Homo sapiens: one gene and its partner. The protein of the gene in region 1 interacts with the protein of each later gene in a pairwise test. Each region holds a gene or a part of one and is shown on either strand. Other genes may lie near its edges.

Region 1 (4,057 bases):
GGAAATCCTGGGGTGAGTGGAGTCACCCCACTCCCAGTTGCTGGCAGAGACTGAGACTAAAGCATCACTTAATAAACCCCCCAAGCCCAATCCCTGTCTCCTGGTGCCTGTCTGTACAGAAGTTTCATTGGGGGGTGGGGCACTGAAGATGGCATCCTGAAATGCATTTTGGAAAGGCTTCTTTGAAGTGGATGGAACAGAACAAGAAGCAGGCAATTTGAGTGAAGGCCCTGGAGATGGTTTGATAGGCACTGTCAAGTTCCTTGACTGTAAACTGAGGCGGTGCCTTTGCAGGGGTGATAGTGAAAATCTCTTGCCAGCAACATCGCTGCCTGGGGTTGGTTCGCTGTCACTAGCTGGGTCCTCTTCCCCAAGGGGGTGGGGAGGTGAGCCTTGAAACCAGCCTCTGGCCAGGCGTAGTGGCTCACGCCTGTAATCCCAGCACTGGGAGGCTGAGGCGGGTGGATCACAAGGTCAGATCGAGACCATCCTGGCTAACACGGTGAAACCCCATCTCTACTAAAAATACAAAAAAAAATTAGCTGGGCATGGTGGCGGGTGCCTGTAGTCCCAGCTACTCGGGAGGCTGAGGCAGGAGAATGGCGTGAACCCGGGAGGCGAAGCTTGCAGTGAGCCAATATCGCGCCACTGCACTCCAGCTTGGGTGACAGAGCGAGACTCCACCTTAAAAAAAAAAAAAAAAAAACCAGCCTCTGAGTCCTCAAGTGCCTGTCCTGCAAGGATTGGCATCTCAAATTGTATTCGGGGGGGGGGGGGGGGGGAGGGGGAGGTGGTGAGCCTGGTGAATCCCCCATGATAGAACCAACATTTACCAAAGGCAGTTTGCTCTGAGCCCTAGGCAGCACCAGGTGCTAAGAGGCAGCAAAGCATGGTGAGAGATGGCTTCTGAAATCTGTTCTGCATTTGGGGATTTGGGTTCCTCTGCCAGCCTAAGGCAGAGCTGTCCCCAACTGCTGGGAGAACCTGGAACGGGAACACTGCTCTGAGTCGCCGGGGGGACTCTACAGCACCATGGCCACATCCTGCCTTGGGCCCCTACCCTGTTCTAGCCAGTCAGCACAGGGAGTTTGGGTCGTGCTGGAGGAGCTGGCTGTGTGCAGGCGGCCGAGTGAGCTGCCTGCTAATGGGGCTGGGCCACCCCGTGCTGCTCCCTGGAGGCTGGACAAGGCTGGGATTGTTCCCTGGCTCCCCTTTGTCTCCCCACTCCCCGCCCAGGCCTGGCCCGCCTGCCTGGCCACTCTTCCTCCATCAGCCTGGCTGGCAGCAGCCTTGGACTCCGCCCGTGGAGCCCTGGGCCTGTTGACCCACCAGCTTAGGAGCACCCACCAAGCTCTGGGTAAGGAAGCTCACCTTCTGGGGCTCTTCTGGGAAAATAGAGGTAAAGCATCTTGCTCCAGCCACCCCTCCCCCATTTCCATAGCAACTGCACACACTCCACTCCAGAGATCTCCAAACCCTACTACTAAGGGAAGGCACCGTGAGGGCAGCTAGACCCCAGCGTATTCCTCACTCCTCCCCCAGATAGATGGGCAGCACTCAGGGTAGGGGAGACCCCCGACCATCCCACTTGTGGGAGCGAGCAAGGGATACCCTGGGAGGCCCTCATCCATCTTTGTTCTGCTGGGGTGCAGGGACTAGGGCCAGGTTTGCCTTTGCCCAGCAGGGTCTCCAGCACCCATCTCGGGCAGAGGCTGGGGGAGTGACTGCTGGTGCAAGCCCCAAAGTGCATGCGGCAAAAACATGGATGCAGAGCTGGTGGCAAGAAGAGGGGCTAAGTTATAGAGTTGCTGCAAAGTTTTGGCCTGGGGAGGTGGGGGGAGTGTCCTAGTCCTCCTCCTGGGGCGGCTCCGCCTGCCCAGCTGGCCCAGCCCCTCCACTTGTGCCAAGGAATGTGCCGGGAGAGGCGGGCGGGGCAGCAGAGCTGCGGCCACCCGGAGGCAGTGCACAGGTCTGGGGCTGAGGGATACCTGGGCTCAGGAGGGGCAGGGACCCCAAAATTCTCCTGGGGGCACAAGTGTAGTCCTCAGAGAAAAGCCAGGCATCCCCCTACCTCCTTGTCCCACCTGATGGCATCTGGCTTCTCCAGAGATTCGGAGTGCCAAGAGTGTTCTGTGCTCAGTTCAGGCGCTGTGGGCGAAGCACATTCTGGTGGGAAAGGGAGTGGTACTCAGGCTGTCTCTGTGCTGGCCTCCAGGAGTCAGGATTCTTCCTGAGACAAAAACTGGGGCCTGCGGGGCTGGATCACTATTTGAGGCAGCCTCCCGGCTGGGAGGACCCCGCCACTCTTTGCTGGGCTGAGGCCGCCAAGCCCCTCAGTGTGGGGACTGAATGCCCCAAGGAGAACAGGGGTTGGAGTTAAGTGGTGCAAGGGCTGGGGAAGGTGGACCAGCTTCCCCAGGCCTGAAGGAAGCAGCTCCAGGAGGGAGGGTGCCATCTGCCTCCCACACGCACAGCCCATCCTGCGGCTGAACCCAGGTGAAAGGGGCCTGTGGATGGGGGCAGTTATCTGATCCCCTACCTCCCACTCTGTCTCTAGGTCAACGTGGAGGTACCAGGCCACCATGCTCAGTCTCAAGCTGCCCCAACTTCTTCAAGTCCACCAGGTCCCCCGGGTGAGGGGCTCCACCCACTGACCCACCAACCCCCATTCCCTAGAGGACTGACTAGGGGCTGACGTTCTTCTCTTTTAGCTATTGGGGCAGCCCCTCCTGCAGGCGAACTCTTACCCTCCCATTCCAGTGTGAGACTCTTCCTCTGTTCTCTGAGGAACAAGCTTGTGGCCCTCCATCTGGAGTCCCCTTCCCCAGAGCGCCCTGTGTGCTGCGCTCCACCCCCATCCCACCCCAATCTGGCTCTTCGGTTTCCTATTTGTTTTGTGGGTTGTGGGTACTGGGACCTGTGGTAACATCAGATCAGATTTAGTTTGGCTTGGGGGCCACGTTGATCTCCAGCCCAGCCTCTTTGACCCTGCTTCCAGAGATCTCAGATGGAGGGAAAGGGTCCGGGCACAGTGACGCCCTTCCTCTCCCACCACTACCCTAGGTGTTCTGGGAAGATGGCATCATGTCTGGCTACCGCCGCCCCACCAGCTCGGCTTTGGACTGTGTCCTCAGCTCCTTCCAGATGACCAACGAGACGGTCAACATCTGGACTCACTTCCTGCCCACCTGGTGAGGGGAGGCTCCGCCCCAGGCCGCGGCCTTGAGCTCAGAGGGGGTACCCAGGCGGGCAGGGACCGTCCAGGCCCACGGGCTGCAGCGGCAGTCGCGGGGGTCCGCGGCGGCCTGAGCACGCGCCCGCCGCAGGTACTTCCTGTGGCGGCTCCTGGCGCTGGCGGGCGGCCCCGGCTTCCGTGCGGAGCCGTACCACTGGCCGCTGCTGGTCTTCCTGCTGCCCGCCTGCCTCTACCCCTTCGCGTCGTGCTGCGCGCACACCTTCAGCTCCATGTCGCCCCGCATGCGCCACATCTGCTACTTCCTCGACTACGGCGCGCTCAGCCTCTACAGTCTGGGTGAGCCGGACAGGCGCGGGAGCGCGGGGTCTGGGCGTCCCGGAGCGGGGCGAGGGGTGGGACGCGGGACATAGGGGCGCGCCCCTCAGGCCTCAGCTGCACGCCCCCACCTCACCGCAGGCTGCGCCTTCCCCTATGCCGCCTACTCCATGCCGGCCTCCTGGCTGCACGGCCACCTGCACCAGTTCTTTGTGCCTGCCGCCGCACTCAACTCCTTCCTGTGCACCGGCCTCTCCTGCTACTCCCGGTGGGTTCCCAGGCCCCTCCAGTGGGGACGGGGAAGGCGGAGGCACAGGAGAGGACACACCTCACTGCTCTCGAACAGCACTGGAGGCATCGGGACCATGTACTGAGGACTTCCTCTGTCAGACCCTTTATCCCCACATACAGATGTGGTCCTTTACACAGGAGGTCATATGCCCTAACGGTTTTCTTAGCTGCAGGCTGTGCTGATATTCCATCTTTGCCCAAGTCCTCTTGCCTTTCTCTGACCCCTACCCCAAGCACAGCGATGGTGACCGGCCT
Region 2 (4,149 bases), on another chromosome or scaffold:
GACCAGGATGACCAGGCTGTTTCCCAGAAGACTGAATACAAACAGGAGGCAATAAAAGACAGCAAGGAGCAACTTGCCATTTGTCTGAATAAGTTCCGCATCACAGGGGCTTGAGAAGATATCAGGGTAGTAGTAGTCGGTCACTGTTGTCACACTGAGGTCAAGTGTATAATCCATCAAGGCAGCGGGACCTGGTCACAGAGACACATAAAAGACATTCACTCCTTAAAAACATTTTTATTTTTTAAAAATTAGGGGGATGTTATGGACTGAACTGTGTCCTCCCCAAATTCATGTGTTGAAGTGCTCAACCTCCGGTGTGGGTGTGACTATTTGGAGTGGGTGAGACTATTTGGGCCTTTAAAGATGTAATTAAGGTTAAATGATAGACCGGGAGCTGTGGCTCATGCCTGTAATCCTAGCACTTTGGGAGGCCAAGGTGGGCAGATCACCTGAGGTCAGGGGTTCAAGACCAGCCTTGCCAACATGGCGAAACCCCGTCTCTACTAAAAATACAAAAATTAGCCGGGCATGGCGGGTGCATGCCTGTAATCCTAGCTACTCAGGAGGCTGAGGCAGAAGAATCACTTGAACCGAAGAGGTGGAGGTTGCTGTGAGCCGAGATCACACCACTGCACTCCATCCTGGGCGACAGAGTGAGATTCTGTCTCAAAAAAAAAAAAAAAAATTAAAATTAAAAAAAAAAAAAAAAGGTTAAATGAGGTTATAAAGGCAGGGCCCTGGCTCTCACAGTGACTCACACCTGTAATCCCAGCACTTTGGGAGGCCAAGGTAGGCGGATTGCTTGAGGCCAGGAGTTCGAGACAAGCCTGGCCAACAGTGCAAAACCCCGTCTCTACTAAAATTACAAAAATTAGCCAGGCATGGTGCCACATGCCTGTAATCCAAGCTACCTCGGGAGGCTGAGGCACGACAATTTCTTGAACCCAGGAAGCAGGGGTTGCAATGACTCGAGATCAAGCCACTGTACTCCAGCCTGGGTGACAGAGTGAGACTCTGTCTCAAAAAAAAGAAAACAGAAACAAAACCAAAAAAGGCAGGGCCCTAATCTGATAGAACTAGTGTCCTTAACAGAAGAGAAAGAGACACAAGAAATTTTGCTCCCCTTGTGCATGGAGTAAAGACCATGTGAGGACACAGCAAGAAGGCTGAAATCAGCAAGCCAGGTAGAGAAGCCTCACCAGAAATCAACTGCATTGGCAGCTTGGTCTTGGACTTCCAGCCTTTAGAAGTATGTTAAACAACACTTTCTGTTGTTTAAGCCACTCAGTCTATTGTATTTTGTTATGTAAACCAAAGGGAGTCAGCTGAGATGAGAAAAGCCAAAACTTACAAAGAAAATGTAAATACCCATAGTTCCATCACCTAGAATTAGCAGCTGCTAACATATTCTCACAATGCTTTGGGTTATTTTTTTTTCCTTCCTTCCTTCTTTTTTTCTCCCTTCTTTTCTCCCTCCCTCATTCCCTCTCTTCCTTCCATCCCTCTTTCTTTTTTTATTTCTGATGCAATAGAGATGAAGCTAATGTTCCCTTTAACTACACAACTTATCCCCATAACAGAAACAACAACTAAAACCAATTTGGTATGTATCATTCCAAACAATTTCCCCCTGTACTTTTACATATTTATATATATCCATAAACAATATATATTTTTGTGTGTTTTAACTTACATAAATGATATATTGTTTTAACTTACATAAATGATATATTGTTTTTCCCTTTGTATTTTGCTTATTGTTTTAGAGATATATCTGCATGATATTCATCAGTTTATTCTTTTAATTGCTTTCCTAAGCACCAGAAAAAAAATAACTTTATAAATGCAATAGAAAAATGATCCCAATTATACTAGCAATGAAAATTACTAGCATTACTAGGAATAAAACTAATAAAAATGCAATTCAGTTACATAAAAATTATAAAACTTGACAATTCTTCTCAAATTGATATATACATTCAATGCAATTTCAATCCAGACATATTTTTCCAAGGCATTTGTTTGCTTTACATTCAGACACCCCTCTCCACTCTGCTACTTTTCTATGATTTGAAAGCACAAGCAAGCAAGCAAGCAATTTATTTATTTTTTTAGAGACAGGGTCTCACTATGTTGCCCAAGCTGGAGTACAGTAGTTATACGCAGGTGTGATCTCACACAAAGCCCTGACTTCTGGGCGCAAGCAATCCTTCTGCCCCAGGCTCTTGAGTAGCTGGGACTACAGGCACCCACCAGCAACTTCTTTAGTCATATGAAAGTTTGCTCGCTGGCTTCTTTCCTTAAGAACAGCACCCAGGTGTCCTTCAGTTACCTGATAGAAGCCCTGTACCCAGCACAAGGACAGATCTTCCCAGATGCCTGGTATTATAAAGGATCTTCTCTTATCTACCTTCCCACTCTTGTAGGAGTTTTCACTCTCTCCTAAAGGCCTGCAGAGAATATGGCACGGTTTGCTCTCCTCAGCCAGAGCATGGGCAGCCACTAAGACACATGCATGTTTGTGGGCTCTGAGGAAATGCAAAGATTTAAAAAAAAATTTTACTTCTTGTGCTAGACCTCTGAAATTTTGGTCTTCCCTTTGCCTATCCTCTAAAGATATAAAAATGCCCCTGCCTACTCATGCCCTTCTTCCCCAAGGATGCTTGTAGCACATACCTTAGTGACAGCCTTTGTTCTGGAGGTTTCAGTGTTGCCAATTCCTTCTTCACAAAGTCTGTATCCTCATGTGAGTGCAGCTCAATGAGCAGCAGCCTCTCTGGAGGTATCCTCCCACTACAAACAGCAGATGGAGAGAAGGCAGTCTCTTGAGGGCTCCACCCTCACACCTAGTCACCTAAAGGGAGGCAATGAGGGTTAAATGAGATCGTAAGGCTGAGGCCCTAATTCAATAGGACTGGTGTCTCCTAGGTAGAGGAATACACACCAGAGCTCACTCTCTTGCCTCCAGGTGCTCAGAGGAAAGGCCATGTGAGGACACAGGGAGAAGGCAGCCATCTGCAAGTAAGGTAAATAGGCATCACCAGAAACCAGACTTGTGGGCACCTTGGTCTTCTAGCCTCCAGAACTGTGGGAAAACAAATTTCTGTTGTTTAAGCTACTCAGCCTGTAGTATTTTGTTATGGAAGTCCTAGCAGACTAATACAGGGGTTAATGGGAATTTTCTGTGTTGTCTACCTAGATTTTCTGTAAACTTAAAACCTCTAAAAAATAGTCTATTAAAATTTTTAATTGAAATCAGTATTAAAATGAAATCATAATTCCATTATTATTTTGAAGTTATACAATTTATACCAGGACTGGCTTTCCTCCATGGTATGTAGCATACACAAATGTGTGTGTATGTTGTATGCATGTACATATATTAACTCTTTCAACAGGAATGCCATTTGAAAATCACTTTAAGTCAGTTTCCCCTATCCCAGGAGAGTGAACATGAGTCCCAGAATTGTTGGGAGGAAATGACAGAAGTTCCAGAATCTCCTCATCTCCAACCCACTCATTCCTGGAGAAATGCAGTAGAAATATCTGCTGGATGCCAGGTACGGTGGCTCACATCTGTAATTCCAGCATTTTGGGAGGCTGAGGCAGGAGGATTGCTTGAGCCTAGGAGTTCAAGACCAGACTGGTCAACATAGCAAGACCCCATCTCATACGGTTTGGCTCTGTGTCCCTACCCAAATCTCATCTTGAATTATAATCCTCATAATCCCCATGTGTCAAGGGCGGGACCAGGTGGAGTTAATTGGATCATGGGGGCAGTTTCCCCCATGCTGTTCTCATGATAGTGAGTGAGTCTCAAGAGATCTGATCTGATGGTTTTATAAACACCTGGCATTTTCCCTGCTTGCACTCACTCCATCCTGCCGACCTGTGAAAAATGTGCCTGCTTCTCCTTTGCCTTCCACCATGATTATAAGTTTCTTGAGGCCTCCCCAGCAATGCAGAACTGTGAGTCAATTTAACCTCTTTCCTTTATAAATTATCCAATCTTGGTCTTTCTTTATAGCAGTGTGACAACGGACTAATGCATCATCTGTACAAATTTTTTAAATAAAATTAGCCAGGCATGGTGGCATGCACTTGTAGTCCCAGCTACTTGGGAAGCTAAAGTGGGAGGATCACTTG

The links. Proteins that work in one complex are often made in the same cells at the same time.
Region 2: the proteins of PAQR6 (region 1) and CCR8 interact in a two-hybrid assay, tested with the Homo sapiens proteins (one large-scale study listed by BioGRID and IntAct).

The regions. Positions count from the first base shown.
Region 1 is NC_000001.11:156,245,257-156,249,313, reverse strand, and holds the start of PAQR6 (membrane progestin receptor delta), read left to right. Parts: upstream 1-1,257; 5' UTR 1,258-1,357; exon of another isoform or gene 1,358-1,399; intron 1,400-1,681; exon of another isoform or gene 1,682-1,804; intron 1,805-2,557; 5' UTR 2,558-2,582; coding exon 2,583-2,633; intron 2,634-3,063; coding exon 3,064-3,191; exon of another isoform or gene 3,192-3,326; coding exon 3,327-3,532; intron 3,533-3,652; coding exon 3,653-3,779; intron 3,780-4,057. UniProt on the Homo sapiens protein: Plasma membrane progesterone (P4) receptor coupled to G proteins. Seems to act through a G(s) mediated pathway. Involved in neurosteroid inhibition of apoptosis. May be involved in regulating rapid P4 signaling in the nervous system.
Region 2 is NC_000003.12:39,328,360-39,332,508, reverse strand, and holds the start of CCR8 (C-C chemokine receptor type 8), read right to left. Parts: upstream 2,801-4,149; 5' UTR 2,680-2,800; intron 192-2,679; 5' UTR 178-191; coding exon 1-177.